Regions from separate parts of the Homo sapiens genome. Here region 2 is linked to region 1. Evidence: fine-mapped expression QTL. Tissue or cell type: monocytes after R848. Region 1 holds a variant in brackets; the other region holds the start of a gene. All regions are shown on one strand. Distances are from middle to middle.

The links. PIP is the estimated chance that this variant, and not a neighbour inherited with it, causes the effect.
Region 2: it holds the start of RFC1, and the variant in region 1 is fine-mapped to the expression of RFC1 in monocytes after R848 (Quach 2016, PIP 0.95). The same link has a PIP of 0.9 or more in monocytes after LPS.

The regions. Positions count from the first base shown.
Region 1 is chr4:39,313,168-39,321,353 of GRCh38, forward strand. RFC1 (replication factor C subunit 1) reads right to left here. Exons shown (of 25, transcript NM_002913.5): 8 at 8,120-8,186; 9 at 7,216-7,502; 10 at 3,748-3,855. Among named protein-coding and RNA genes, the nearest start is that of RFC1, 49 kb to the right of the region's middle. The variant C/A (reference allele first, on the strand shown) is at 3,286.
Region 2 is chr4:39,363,100-39,371,285 of GRCh38, forward strand. It overlaps RFC1 (replication factor C subunit 1), which reads right to left and starts at 3,263. Exons shown (of 25, transcript NM_002913.5): 1 at 3,140-3,263. The coding sequence starts at 3,142. RefSeq lists an enhancer at 3,185-3,304.

The DNA.
Region 1 (8,186 bases):
CAACACTGTTAGCAAAGCTATTAAAATTACCCATTCATACTATTTTCCATTATGCCCTCTTCATATCTAAACTACTAGTTAACTTGCATAACTATAAATAAACAACCAAATGCAATCCATCTGTAGAAACTCTTGCTATTCAGGAAACTGCTTGTTCTTAAGAACTTTCCCAACAAGAATTTAATAGAAGCAGGTATACTCCTATCATTTTGATGTTTCTGTTAATGTTTCGAAACAATGTACTTTAAAATCAGAATCACTTCTTATCATTTTCAAATACTTCTGATGCTTTTCACCACATTAGTGATCAGAAATGAGGTCTAATTCCCCAATCCCTGCCCGCAAGAGCTAAGTAGGATCTTAACTGTAAGTTGAAGGGAGTTTTGCCCGAACTCATGGATTGTACAAGAACAAACTGCTGCTGGGTTGGATGGTCTGCCAATGGATTGTGGTGTGGCATATCTGAAGGCTACTGAATGCAACTTATAATGCTTAATAAAAAATTTTTACTGTTTTATGGGAAAAAAGGGAAAAAAGGCAACTCTTGCTATTGTTAAAAAGGGAAAGTTTTGATTCTAAAAAGCTAAGCAAGTGTGAGCTCGTGCCTTCCTCTCTGCTCATTACTCTAGGATAGTAAATCTAGCAATCTTCTAGTAACTTAAAGGCAAGATCGTATTATCTCTGGATTGGAAAGATAACTCTCATAATGTATAATATAAGAGATACTTGCCAAAGAGAGCTGGATGGAAAAGACATTAAATCTTAATTGGAACTATGTTGAGTTATATATTTTTGCAATGGTTCAATAAAATTATACAACCAAACAAAATGAAAATTATACATGACATTCCAAGTTACTTATTACTCTTTTAATAGAGAATTGAGATTAATAAACTTAAAATGGGCTTGAAAAGCAGCAGCCAACCAAAATTCAAAGACTGCCTCCATGTAAGTTCAATCCTTCACCATTCAGATGAAGAATCTTTCTCGGAAGACAAAAAGAAACAGCTATGAAGGTGCTTGGAAAGAAAAGGTTTGACTAACAATATCTCAGGGTCCCTTGAAGCCTTTATGGGTTCTTGGATTGAAATGATCTACTGTAACACTACAGGAACTTAACTACTTCTGAACAAACTCAAAACAACCCTGGAAAAATTGCACATGCAAGCCCCTATATCCCATATCCCAAACATCTATTATCTCCCAAATTATCACCCACTATGGCTCTGATTATCTTTTTACTTATCCAATCTTAGCACTTCTAGCCTCCCTATCAAACTCTTCTATTCTAGAATTTGGCTAAGCTCTTACTCCAGGAGCAGCCAGCCACCCCTAGTATCCTCAACCTCTTCTCCAACATTCCCTCCATAGCCTTGCCTTCACTGAAACCTGTCTGTCCCCTCAGGGCACCACTTTGACTGAAGTCCTCTCAAGCAGAACTTGTTTGGTCTCTCATACCCATGTACAGGAGGCAAGACTGGCATCTTCCTGCAGGCTCCCATAAAACCCATAAGCCCCTTAAGGCCGACCTTCTCGCTCCCCACTCCGGTCCCAGCTACACCATCTCTCCCTCTCTTTATTAGGGGAGCTATTAATCTCTATATGTACTTATATATACCAAGCAAACTGAAAATTAAATTTATACATATATTGTATACTTATCCCCTCCCCTCCTGCCTTCTTAGAAATCTCATGCTACAATTGATTCTCCTTCTCCTGCTGGTATAACTTCCATCTCTCCCTTTCTGGTAGGATCTATCCCATTAGCAAAACGCATGCTTTAAATATCTCCTACCATAAAAATACTTAAATCTCCCCCTAAATTCCACTTTCCATTCTAGCTAGAAGTCACTTCCCCTTCTAGTCCTTCTAGCTAGAAGTCCTCCCACTTCTTTCTCCTTCACAGCCAAACTTATCAAAAATATCTACTTTTGCTGTCTCCATTTTGTCTCCTCACACTCACTCTTCCACCCGCTTCCATCAGGCTCTGCCTCCACTGTCCTTAGCTCTTGCTAAGGCCACTAAGGATCATTAATTCATGTTACTAAATGGAACAATTTCCGGTCTTCCCTTACCTGGAATCTTAACAGCATGACAGACTTAACTACTCAATCATTTTTGAAATACTCTCTCTTCCCTTTGCTTCTGTGATCCCACGCTTATCAAACTTCTCTCCCATATTTGTAGCTGCTACTTCTCAGTTTCCTTTTGGTTTCCACCCTCTTCTACTTCACAAAGAAGCAGGGGCCAAGGCCCTCTTCTCTTCTTGTTCTGTACTAGTTTACCAGATGCTATTAATCCCTTCATGCCAAGAATGCCCAAGTTTGTCCATCTAGTTCTGACTTCTGTTCTAAGCTCCAGTCCCACATATCTGCTTGTCTACTCAGCATCTCCATGTGGACATCTCACATAACCCTAAAGCACAGTGTGGCCAACAACGAACTCATTATCATCTCCCCAAACTAGCCCTGCCACCAATCGCATGATCCACCAAGCTGCTCATGCCAATAACAAGATCATCCCCAATACTCTTTCTTCTCACTTTCCACTTCAATTATCACCAAGTCCCATAGATTTTGCCTCTTCTAGTGAAACCTCTCCACTTTTCGACATTTTCACTGCTCCCCCAGACCAGTCCCTATCACTTCTCACCATCTCTCCTGATGATCTCTGTGTAGCTATTTCTGCCCCATCCACAGCACTTGGTACATCAGCAGCCAGAGCGATCTTTCAGAAATTCAAATCTGGTCATGTTATCCCTCCACTTTAAAATTCCTTCTCGGCCGGGCCCAGTGGCTCACGCCTGTAATCCCAGCACTTTGGAAGGCCAAGGCAGGCAGATCACCTGAGGTCGAGAGTTCGAGGCCAGCCTGACCAACATGGAGAAACCCCATCTCTACTAAAAATACAAAATTAGCCAGGCATGGTGGCGCACGCCTGTAATCCCAGCAACTCCAGAGGCTGAGGCAGGAGAATCGCTTGAACCCAAGAGGTGGAGGTTGCCGTGAGCTGAGATTGCGCCACTGCACTCCAGCCTGGGCAACAGGAGCGAAAACTCCATTTCAAAAACACAAAATAAAAATTCCTTCTCTTAGACAAAAGTCTTAAACATTAGGCCCTGCAAGATGTGATCCTATTAACCTCTTTGGCCATTCTCATCCCTTGGTCACTATGCTCCAACCATAATTTTTCTTTCAGTTCCTCAAACATACCATGCAAGAACCTTCCCCCTGCAGGAACATCATACATTCTGGCCCCTCTGCCCAGACCACCACGCCATCACAA[C/A]CCCTTCACACCTGTTGAATCCCTTTCATTCTTCAAGTCTCCATTTAAATGTCACATTCTACATGCCCCACCAAGGACCAGGTTCCTCTGTTATACTACCTAAGGGCATCTTAGATTTTTCCCTCATAGCACATATCCCAATTATAATTAAATTATTTATTTAATGTCTCTTTCTTTAGGCTATAAGTGCCATGCAAGCAAAAACATTAGTTTTGTCACTGGTATAGTCTCAAAGCTCAGCCTTTCTAGGGCTACTTGTTATTTAAAGGGAAATTTTTCTAAGTATCAAGCAGTGATTCATAACATGAATAAACATCCCTAATTCTTGAAGACAGTAACTGAAGCTTTTCTGTTGCTCATTTTTAATTATTAATCCTCTGCTGCTATAATCATCGTGAATACATACATGGACCCATACGGCAGAGGCCCTCACAGAATGGCATGCCCTCTCAGTACTCTTACCTTTGGTATTTCTTTGGAGCCCAGAGCCTTGGGACCTTCTCGATTTAAGTAGCTTCGATAAGCTTGATAATTAGTGCGTTTCTTTTCAGAATCTTCAGGACTTACAGACTTTGGGAACAGGGAAAGGAAAATGAACAAAGTCATACAGAATTCATGCAAAATTTAAAATACATATCTAGAAATAAACATTATTTTTATTGTGTCACTTCTGTGTCTGGCTGTGAAATTAACAGTTTTAGCTACACAAGTACTTCCTAACTTACAGACAACTGACTTACGAACATCCCTGCATCAGCGCTTCTCAAAACTTTCCACTCTCTAAAGCCACACACCTCAGGGCAGATTATGGGAATAAGCCAAGTTGCCAGCTCCAAGCAAAGAAATGCAAAAAGTGTTTTACTTTAGGAATTCACCTGAATTTTAAATTATATTTCATGATATATCCATATATCCATGTTTAACGGGAAAATACATTTTTTCCCCAAGTAAACCTGATCGCCCGAGAAGATATTCTGTGTTAATCCTATGACCTTCCATGCCCCTAAAGCACCAGCCTGCATCCCTAAGGACATAAGCATTCCAGTAGGAGAATCTAAACAGTCAGCTCAAAGAAGGTACAAGCTTTACTCCAAAGAGAAGACACGTTCTCTATGCTATTTCATCTCCTCCCATTCTACTTCTCTCGGGGAATTTACCATAGGTATATCTCAGAAAATCCTGGGGAAACTTTTCAAACTATGCATCCCTAGATCCACCTCCAAGTTTCTCTTTCGGAGATATGGGGTATGGCTAGAATGTGTTTATGTGGGGGAAAAATATCTTAGATAGCTCTCATTTAAGAACCACTATCAGGTGTTTGTTATTTTTCCACTTCCTATTTTAACATTATTTTTAACTTGTAAGCAATCCCAAATCCTTTTGAGAGTAGACAAAATAGTAACTTCTATACAAAGAAATGGCGGCCGGCTGCAGTAGCTCACGCCTGTGGTCCCAGCACTTTGGGAGGCCGAGGTGGGTGGATCACGAGGTCAGGAGATCGAGACCATCCTGGCTAACACAGTGAAACGCCGTCTCTACTAAAAAAATACAAAAACTAGCCAGGCTTGGTGGCGGGCGCCTGCAGTCCCAGCTGCTCGGGAGGCTGAGGCAGGAGAATGGCGTGAACCCAGGAGGCGGAGCTTGCAGTGAGCTGAGATCGCGCCACTGCACTCCAGCCTGGGTGACAGAGCGAGACTCCGTCTCAAAAAAAAAAAAGGAATGGCTTAACCAATAAAATAGTTCAGCTGGTTTGGCTAAGAGGTCGATAAGCCATTAACAGGCTGGTCCTAGAATCTAACCCTACTTTCTAACAATGGTTCTCAAATGTTGGTGTGTGTTCATATCATATGAGGAGCTTATTAAAATACAGCTGCCCACACCACATTCCCTGGGAAACTCCATTTTTTTAACAAGTTTCACAAGAGAGTCCAGTGCATACCAACATGGAAAAACGATTAATTTACGACACTCATTCTATGAAAAGAATTCTGAATGGTAAACAGCGTATACAATAACTTTGAAGGACACCCACTTTATGAAGTCAGAATTATTTGACCAAGACCAACTAAATGTATTAAATAGACTTTATTTGACGTTTCCAACCAAAACTGCTTAAGTAAAAGTTTTGAGTTATTTCTATTCTAACTTTAAAAAGTACAGTGAAGAGTATCATTTAAAGATTTCCTCTTTCTTCATAAAAACAGACTGCCTCTGTAAATGGAACATGTTTTAGTGTGCCTGAAGAAAACCATTCATTTACCAGATAAGCATTTAGTGCAGAAAAAATCTGAGATCAAAAAGTTAATTGCTCCTTTAAGCGTATTTATAAGCATTGTCCACAAACAAAAGCATTCTGAAATCATCACCATTTCACTGTTCTGCACTAAAATATAATGGTGATGACCAGTTAAAATAGGTGATATTCTGCTTTTAATCCTAAGTGCCTAAGAGGCATGAATGAATAGTGGTTTCTCATTATGAATCTAAAGTAGTTCCAAATTGGAGATTCAGAGACCGTTCGCTTCTCAAATATATTTCCTAGCAAAATTTTTCAAAGATATTCATTATCTCATCATTTTTTCCTTTAAAAATAATTTCAGTATCGCAACACTGTTGTACAAGAATAAAAAAGAGTAAATTTAGGACTAAGCCAAATAACAATCATTTTAATAATAATAGTTAAGATGGCACTTATTAGGTCCCAGGCACTGCTCTAAGTGCTTTTACATATGAAGTCATTAGGTACTATTATTATTATTCCTATTTTACAAACAGCACCAAAGCACAGACAGGGGAAGTGACCAAACCTGCTCAGAGTCCCAGAGCCTGAAACTGGCTCCAGAGCCTGTGTGTGGAGCCACTATGTTATACTGCTTCAGAGGACCTGAGTTCAAGGCTGGCCCTGCCACTTACCAGGTGGATGATCTTAGAATAGTTAAACTCTTTCAGCCTGTTTCCTCGTCTTTAAAAGTTGAATAATAAAAATAAATATCTCACAGGGTTGTTGTGAAAATTATATGAGCTACCACATGTAAAGTATTCGCACAGTATCTGACACACAATAACAATAAATATGGGCTTACTTAGCTATATTAATACTCCATATCCTACAACAGCTTCTAAATAAGATATCTTAAAAATATTATAATGACTTATGATCGTTAGAAATAAAACTTGAAAACAAACCCAGACTAACACATAGCACCAAAATATATACAGCAGTCCCCCTTTATCCGAGGAGGGTATGTTCCAAGACCACCCCAGTAGGTGCCTGAAACCACAGACAGTACCAAACTATATATATACTTACATGTACTGTTTTTTCTATCTAATAACCAAGCCGGCTACCAAGTGACTAACGGGTGGGTAGTGTATCCAGCATGGTTATGCTGGACAAAGAGATGATTCACATCCTGGGTGAGATAAAGCAGGTTGGCCAGAGAGATTTCATCATGTTACTCAGAAGAGTACCCAATTTAAACCTTATTAATTGTTCATTCCTGGAATTTTCCATTTAATACTTTCAGAACATGATTAACCACAAGTAACTGAAACTTCAGAAGGCAAAACCATGGATAAGGGGGAATACTGTACTCCCTAGAAAGTTCCTACCAAGGCCGGGCGCGGTGGCTCACACCTGTAATCCCAGCACTTTGGGAGGCCAAGGTGGGCAGATCACCTGAGGTCGGGAGTTCAAGACCAGCCTGACCAACATGGAGAAACCCCGTCTCTACTAAAAATACAAAATTAGCCAGGCATGGTGGCACATGCCTGTAATCCCAGCTACTTGGGAGGCTGAGGCAGGTGAGTTGCTTGAACCTGGGAGGCAGAGGTTGCAGTGAGCCGAGATTGTGCCACTGCACTCCAACCTCAGCAACAAGAGCAAAACTCCATCTCAAAAAAAAAAAAAAAAAAAAACAAAGTTCTTACCTCTTTTTTAGCTGGAGAACTTTTGGTTTTCTTAGGAGTTTTTGTCTCTCCTTTCAATTTAATGGCATTTTCTTTTCTTTTTGAGGCCACAGGCTCTATTTCTTTATAAGAGCTCTCTTCTTTTCTTTTCATAATTGCCAGCTTAGAACTGGCCTTGGGAGAAGAGACTTCTCCTATTTTGTCAGCTGATGACTTGGAATGTTGCTGAGATTCTTTTGAACTTTCATATTTACTTTGCTTCCTAGGACTGTAGCTCTTTCTTTCATCTGAAACTTGTGCTGTTTTTACTAGGAAGAAAGAAAAGATTATGGTTGTTGTTTTTGGAAAATGATAATCTATATCAACTTTTCTTTCATTTTTCAACTGAGTAATCTTAGCACAGAATATACCCTGAAGGCCCAAAGTCCTAAAGTGTCAAGACCATCTGTTTATAGTAAATCTATAAATACATTTACTTATAGGACTAAGATCATCTAGACTAGCAGATGATTTGCTATCAGAACCACTGAAGAATAAAACCTACAGGCAATAAGCAAGAGAGCTGAAGATGACCTGGCCAACTATGAGTCAACTCTGAGACTACCTCTGACATGAAAAGCTCAAAACATCTAGGTTCTTCATCTTTATATATTGAAATCCACATATTGCACTATACTTGGAAATTAACAAGAAGCCAGGAGTTTTAACACAATTCTCACAGTAATCATAGAGCAGATGGGCATTCTGTACCAGCTAGCATCCAAAGAGCTTTCAAAGTTTCTAAGTTCAATATGCTCTAATAGTCCTGTGAAATAATGTCTACCTAACAATACATAATTACTGAATAGGATACTTAAACAAGATTATCATGAATTTACTTCCATGAAGACAAGTGCTCCATCTTACTTTTTTCTGCTAGTATTACCTTTATGAGGATATTTATGTTTTTCTGCTTTACTTAAATTGGCTTGGACAGATGAAAACGTTTCTCC
Region 2 (8,186 bases), 50 kb after region 1:
GTGTTTAATTCAATCTTATGCATATTTTCAATAATTATACCAACCAATTAATTATATATGCTGACTTCTTAAAAATGGCATCTCTCAGGTTTTATTCACGTTTTGTGCAAACAATTAAATCTCAGTGAAATTCAAATTGTCTACATGGCTTCTTTATTTCTTTTATTTTTAATTTTCTTTCTATTTATTTACGTGGTTCAAATTTCGAAAGGGTAAAAAGTCCCCCTCTTATCCTGCCTCTCAGACACATATTTCCCATCTCTGGAGGCAACAAATGTTATCAGTTGGTTCCTTCTGTATCTTTCCAGAGAAATTTTATATTTTGGCAATTGTTTCATATCAGAGTATAAAGTTTTCTCATTTTTATAAAGGTTGCACAGTATTCCATTGTGTGAATACACGTACTTTATTTCTTTATTGATAACTTTTAATTGGAATTTTTGTTTTCAATGCAGCTCCCAGGGCAAGAGCTGTCTATGGATGGGCTTCAGAAGATAAGTGAATAGGCCAGGCACAGTGGTTCATGCCTGTAATCCCGGCACTTTAAGAGGCTGAGGCAGGTGGATCAACTTGAGGCCAGGAGTTCAAGACCAGCCTGGCCAACATGGTGAAACTTCATCTCTACTAAAAATAAAAAAATAAAATAGCTGGACATGGTGGCACACACCTGTATTCCCAGCTACCAGGCAGGCTGAGGCACAAGAATCGCTTAAACCTGGTAGGCAGAGGTTGCAGTGAGCCAAGACTGCACACTGCACTCCAGCCTGGGCAAAACAGCAAGACTCTCAAAAAAAAAAAAAAAAGAAGAAGAAGAAGAAGATGATAAGTGAACAGGCCAGGCACAGTGGCTCATGCCTGTAATCTCAATGCTTTGGGAGGCCAGGGTGGAAGGATCGCTTGTACCCCGGAATTAGAGATGGCAGTGAGCTATCATCACACCACTGCACTCCAGCCTGGGCAACAGAGCAAGACCTTGCCTTTAAAAAAAAAAAAAAAAAAAAAAGAAGAAGAAGATAGGTCAATCCCTTAAAATGGTGTGTATATGCCCATATGCATTTCTCTGGGCAGAAAATTTGCATATCATTCACTGTATTTATCAAAGGAAACTGTAACTGAAACAAAGATTGAGAACTACTGTCCTTCATACCCAACGACACAGTCTGAGGGAAAAAAAAAAAAAAGAACTACTGTCTTATAACTTTGCACAAGTGTTCAATAAACATTTGTTGAATCAATTTTAGTCTAGGGTTTTGCTAATTGTTGCACTAGAGACTGGAGGGCTAAATTAAATATCAGTATAATACAAAATTCTTATCTACCTCATAGGATGTTTACCCACTAACAACAAAACTGACCAATTTGACCTATTTCTTTTCTGAGAAGAGGTCTATTTTTTATCTGCACCATGAACAGGAGTACTAAAGAAAGAAAAGAACCAAAAGTAAAAGCACCTGAATGATCAAAAGTTGACCACACAAGCTATGTTCACCATAAATGACAGAGGAATCTACCATGCCTCTTAAAATCTATGTAACTTTCCATAGAGTCCTTTCTGAGAAAATAGATCACTGGTAGCTGTGTAGTTGCCTAACATGCCAGGCACCAGAACCAGAACGGAAGCTTTACCTATACATCTTGCTTAATCCCCAAAACAATCACTATGGCAGCTATTATTTTCCCCTCTTTTACAGATAAGGAAACAGAGGCTTAAAGAGATTAAACTTAAGCTATTTACTTGCCCAAGACCACGTAACTATTAAACTAGACTATACTAACATAGTAATATAACTATAAATTAATATATAAACCATTAAACTAAAATATTACCACGTTCTTCATCTTCAAGACTCCAAGTCTCAAGCTTCCAAAATACCACAGTGCTTTGGCCTCCAAAATGTAATGATGATCATTATAGGGAAGTAGTATAACATGGTGGTCAGAAACACCAAGATTCTAATTCTAGTTCAACCACCTACTAGTTATATGATACACTGTTTAAATTCCAAAAAGGTGCTTGCACCATCTGTAAAACTGCATCGATGTGGGTTGAAATGAAAAAAAAAAAAAAAAAAAAAAACCATGGAAAACCAACAGTTCACATATTGACCTAAAGAAGATGCTTGGTACAAGGTAGCTACTATCATTACTGTTGCCCTTTTTTGAGAAGAAACACAAAGGCCTGCAACGTTTCCCAGTGTGGCATAAAATTTTCACCGCCCCCCCCCAGAATGTTGTCACTGTGACACGTTGACCAATGATTGAAAAAAATTATATCGGATTGTTAAGTATCTTCTAGCTTAATGAACATTTTAAATGGTCCTTTAAAAATATTTCAAACACAGAGCCATATCCATTGCCATACCATCAGGAATGTCTGCTTTGCTGGCTGCATAATCATTTCACTTTCAATTTGTTTGAACATTTTATCCAGAATTATGCAGTGAGGCTTGGGTTTTTTTCAGATTTTAAACATCAGGTGGTAAGAGGATGACAGCTGTCAAATGTCTTGCATCTGTTTCTATTCGCTGTACTTCTTTTTCCTAGTAAGCCATGTTATCCTTTTGACTCCTATGAACTCATCTAAACAAAATAAAATATCCTCTCCATGCCCTCGGTCTCAACACCGCTCAGGTGATCGTTAATGACGAGCGGAGATGAGACGAGCTGAGCTGTTAATGATAAAAGTTTAAGGCCCTACACAACATATTCCCTAAGAAAGAAAAGTTTGTTACATTCTTCTCCCTCGTGACCCAAAGCTTGAAATCCACGCTTTAGGCAGTACTCAAACTGAGGTTCGGGCAACGCCGAACAAGAAAATAACTTTACCAATGCGTCCCAAAACCACCATCCTTCCTCTCTTCCTTTCTCCCTTCCCCCAAGAGTGGGGGGCGGGGGGAAAGTGCAAGTACACGTAGCAACAAAATCCCTGCGCGCTGGCTGCCGCCCAGAGCCAGAGCCCGCGATGCAATGAAAGTTTTGCGTCCAGTGCCCGGTGTGCGGCCCCTTCTCTGCCTTTGCTAGCCTCCGGAACCACCCACCGCCATCCTCCCCCACCCTGCATACCAGGAGTGCCCGGTCCACACCAGGCCTGCAAAGCCCCCCCAGACCCCGAGCCGCACGGCCTCCCCCAGCGGCTCACCATCGCAGCCCCAGGATGAAGGCGCTGGCTGGCTGGCGGGTGGGCCGGTTGAGGAATCTGTTATCGAGGCTCAGGATCCATTCGCGCCAACAACTTCTCCCGCGAAGTGCAAGAAGGCGAAGACAGTGGCGCGCGGTGATGACGTCAGGAGGCGCGAGCTTTGCTTCCGTCCCGCCCAGAGGCGGGAGGTGCGACGCCTGCCCAGGTGCTGCCCCGAGGGCAGGCGGGCCGCTGACATCGAGAGGAACCACGGTGCTTTGGTGTGAGCTCGGTTTTTGGCGGGGGCGCTAAAGTAGGGGGATCCGATATTGGTTTCCTTGGCAGGCGGGGTACCCAAGTACCTCCCGGTTACACGTCTGGACAATGCACTTCCCTATAGTAACTTTGAAAAGTTTTTACTACCAACTTTAGTAAGATAAATGTTTTAGCTGTGCGTTTTACATATTATGTATAAATATCTATTCTGTAATAAGGTTTCATCAAGAGGCCGGACGCGGTGGCTCACCCCTCTAATCCCAGCACTTTGGGAGGCCGAGGCGGGTGGGTCACCTGAGGTCAGGAGTTCGAGACCACCTGACCAATGTGGTGAAACCCCGTCTCTACTAAAAATACAAAAATTAGCCAGGGGGTGGTGACGTGTGCCTGTAGTCCCAGCTACTCGGGAGACTGAGACAGGAGAATTGCTTGAACCCAGGAGGCAGTGGTGCAGTGAGCCGAGATCGAGCTACTGCCCTTTAGCCTGGGCGACAGAGCGAAACTCCGCCTCAAAAAAAAGAAAAGATACCGAAAGCTTTGGGGTAAACCAGTTGTATATGAATAGATTAGCAATTGAATCACGGAATACAATGAAACATTTGCGTACGATTTCAAGAGAAAGATTAGACCATAAAGAGTTCAATGGAGAAAGCAGTATCTCCAGCTTTGGCTCTAGCTACACTTTTGAAATTCTCACCCATCCACCCCCTGTTGGGTCTTGCGCTTTATGACACCAACATTTCTATGGCGAAAGATAGAACAGCCTGGAATACAACAGAGGCTGAGCATTGACAGCTTGTATTTATTAAACGCCTATTGTTGTACGTGCAGCTCTGGACTAGCCTAGCTCATTTTATCCCCATGATGACACTGACTACTCTTATCCCGAATTTACAGACAGACTGTTACTTATTAACAGGGCCTCACTGCACTGTTCCCTCTGAAGCCAGGATGCTAGGTCTCCAGCCCCACCACCTGCTATTTATGTGACCAAGGGCAAGTTACTGTGCCTCGGTTTTGTCTTAGCAGACATATCACACAAATTTTTGCCCATAATTTTAGAGGACCTACACCAATTTATAATGTTCATTGTGTTATAAATCAATAAATGAGTAAATAAGACATAAAAAGTTGTACGTGTCTTTTATATTACATTCCTCTTAACTTTTGCTTTTTTTTTTTTTTGGCATTTGAAGCCTTCCTTGAGTTTAAATGAGACTTAAGTCAGGAGACTGTAACTTCTTTGTGAGATTGTTTTCTTTAGGAATATTTATTTACATGAAAATACTCTATCTCAGAAATATACCAGATCTAAAATGACTGCATATGCTTTGAAACTCCTCCCTTGAACCTGGACTGGCCTATGACTGATTTGATCAAAGAATACAATGGAAGTGATACTATGCCAACTCCAGACCTAAGCTTTAAGAAGACTGGCAGCTCCTGTCTTGCTCTCTTGGAGCACCATGTAAAGCCAGGGAGGTGGTCATCTGAGACCAGCCTTATAGCCATCTCCACCAGGCACCATGCATGTAAATGAAGCCATCTCAGATCCCATCCAGCAACTGATGGAATTTCACTAGCTTTGTTGACCCCATTCAACACCTGGGAGAGCAGAAAAATCACTCAGTCAAGGCCTGTCCAAATTTCCTGACCCACAGTAGCGTGAACATAATTAAATGATTGCTCTGTTAAGGTAATAAGTATTGGAGTGGTTTCTTATAAAGGAATAGATATCCAGAATGGAAATATTTTTGAAGACCCAAAATAGGACTGAGCATGGTGGCACATGCCTATAATCCCAGCACTTTGAGAGGCCTTGTCTCAGGAAAAAAAAACAAAAACAAAAAAAAAGTGAAACCAATCAGAAAAGATTTCCCTGCTGATCCATGCCTTTTTGTTAGCAGAATAATGGCATGGAAAGAAATTCACTCCTTGAAAACAGTATGGATATAAGCTTTTGCCTATCACAGCAAGTTTACATTTATGGATGCCTGCTGCATTAGCACATGCCGGCACTGTTATTCCATCCTTCCCATCCTTAATTCCTTTATGGGCTAGCTCATCAGCCATAGTTAGTATCTATCTGGGGCAAATAACACCAAAACAGTGATGTTTCAGCAATCTTGTAGACTTGGTCTAGTGTCAGATTTTCATGAGTGAAAATATTGGCAAATTCATCAACACATTTCTCCACTGCTTTGTGATCAGCAGATGCTTTATTGCCACAGATTTTTTAAAAATGTAACACCCTGTCTTTTCTTAAATTTATGCAACCAGCCAGTTGAATATGCACAATTCCCTTCAATTTTTAGTTCATTGCAATAGATCTTTGTTTCATGATCAGCATACCATCACGTGGCATGTGTTCACTATGATGCTTATGAATTTATGCTTTCAATACATGATTGAGATTTTCTTTTTTAGCTTTACGTAGTTTTTTTTGGGGGGGGGGTTGTTTTGTTTTTTGTTTTTGAGACGGAGTCTTGCTCTGTCACCCAGGCTGGAGTGCAGTGGCGCCATCTCGGCTCACTGCAACCTCCGCCTCCCAGGTTCAAGCGATTCTTCTGCCTCAGCCTCCTGAGTAGCTGAGATTACAGTTGTGCACCACCACATTTGGCTATTTTTTGTATTCTTAGTAGAGACGGGGTTTCACCATCTTGGTGAGGCTGGTCTCGAACTCCTGACCTCGTGATCTACCCATCTCGGCCTCCCAAAGTGCTGGGAGGGTTTTTTTGGTTTTGTTTTTTTACTTTTCATTAACTTCTGTTCATCACTTTCAGCATAAACCTTCAACAGTTTTTCCTTCTGTTTCTTCAAATCATATATGGTGGTCATTCCAATCCCATACTCTTTTGTAAGATTTTCACACTTATACTGCTGTCCAACTTCTCTAAGGTTGACTTTCTGTGCCACAGATAAACATAAATGCTTCCTCTTTTTCTTATCACTGTTACCCAAAGGGGTATCTGCAGGCCTTTTCGACATTTTCAGCAATATCTGTATACCACAAAGCAGAGAATAATCAAAAAACCGCAGAAGGCCAGGCACAGTGGCTCATGCCTGTAATCCCAACACTTTGGGAGGACAAGGAAGGAGTATTGCTTGAGACCAGGAGTTCGAGGCCAGGAGTTCAAGACCAGCCTGGGCGACAGAGCAAGATGCTGTCCCAAAAACAAAACAAAACAAAAACCACTGTAAACAATCTGAATGTTAACTGTAAAGAAAATGGATAAATTGAAATATATTCATACAACAATAAAAATCAATGAAATACAGATCATACATCATACAACACTACAGATCAGTCTTGTATACTTTTTTTTTTTTTTTTTTTTGAGATGGAGGCTTGCTCTGTCACCCAGGCTGGGATACATTGGCGAAATCTCAGCTCACTGCAACCTCTGCCTGCCAGGTTCAAGCAATTCTCCTGCTTCAGCCTTCCAAGTAGCTGGGATTACAGGCATCCACCACCATGCCTGGCTAATTTTTGTACTTTTAGTAAAGACAGGGTTTCATCATGTTGGTCAAGCTGGTCTCTAACTCCTGACCTCAAATGATCCACCCACCTCGGCCTCCCAAAGTGGTAGGATTACAGGTGTGAGCCACTGCACCTGGCCCAGTCTTATATACTGATATGGTTTGGCTCTGTGTCCCCACCCAAAACTCATCTTCTAGCTCCCATAATTCCCATTGTTGTGGGAGGGACCCAGTGGGATAGGAGATAATTGAATCATGATGGTGCATCTTTCCTATGCTGTTCTCATGATAGTGAATGGGTCTCATGAGATCTGATGGTTTTAAAAACGGGAGTTTCTCTGCACAAGCTCTCTCTTTGCCTGCTGCCATCCACATAAGATGTGACTTGCTCCTCCTTGCCTTACACTATGATTATGAGGCCTCCCCAGCCATGTGGAACCGTAAGTCCAATAAATGTCTTTATTTTGTAAATTGCCCAGTCTTGGGTATGTCTTTATCAGCAGCGTGAAAATGGACTAATACAGTAAATTAATACCAGCAGAGTGGGGCATTGCTAAAAAGATACTCGAAAATGTGGAAGCAACTTGGGAACTGGGTAACAGGCAGAGGTTGGAACAGTTTGGAGGGCTCAGAAGAAGATAGGAAAATGTAGGAAAATTTGGAACTTCCTAGAGACTTTTTGAATGGCTTTGACAAAAATGCTGATAGTGATATGAACAATAAGGTCCAGGCTGAGGTGGTCTCAGATGGAGATGAGGAACTTGTTGGGAACTGGAGCAAAGATGACTCTTGTTATGTTTTAGCAGAGACTTGCAGCACTTTGCCCCTGCCCTAGAGATCTGTGGAACTTTGAACTTGAGAGAGATGATTTAGGGTATATGGTGGAAGAAATTTCTAAGGAGCAAAGCATTCAAGAGTTGACTTCGGTGCTGTTAAAGGCATTCAGTTTCAAATGGGAAGCAGAGCATAAAAGTTTGGAAAATTTGCAGCCTGAAAATGCAGTGGAAAACAAAATCCTATTTTTGAGGAGAAATTCAAGCCGGCTGCAGGAATGTGCATAAGCAACCAGGAGTCGAATGTTAATCACTAAGACAATGGACAAAATGTCTCCAGGGAATGTCAGAGACCTTTGCAGCAGCCCCTCCCATCACAGGCCCAGGGAGGAAAAAGTGGTTTCATGAGCCAGGCCCAGGGTCCCCGTGCTGTGTGCAGCCTAGGGACTTGGTGCCCTATGTCCCAGCCACTCCAGCCGTGGCTGAAAGGGGCCAATGTAGAGCTTGGGCTGTGGCTTCAGAGGGTGCAAGCCTCAAGT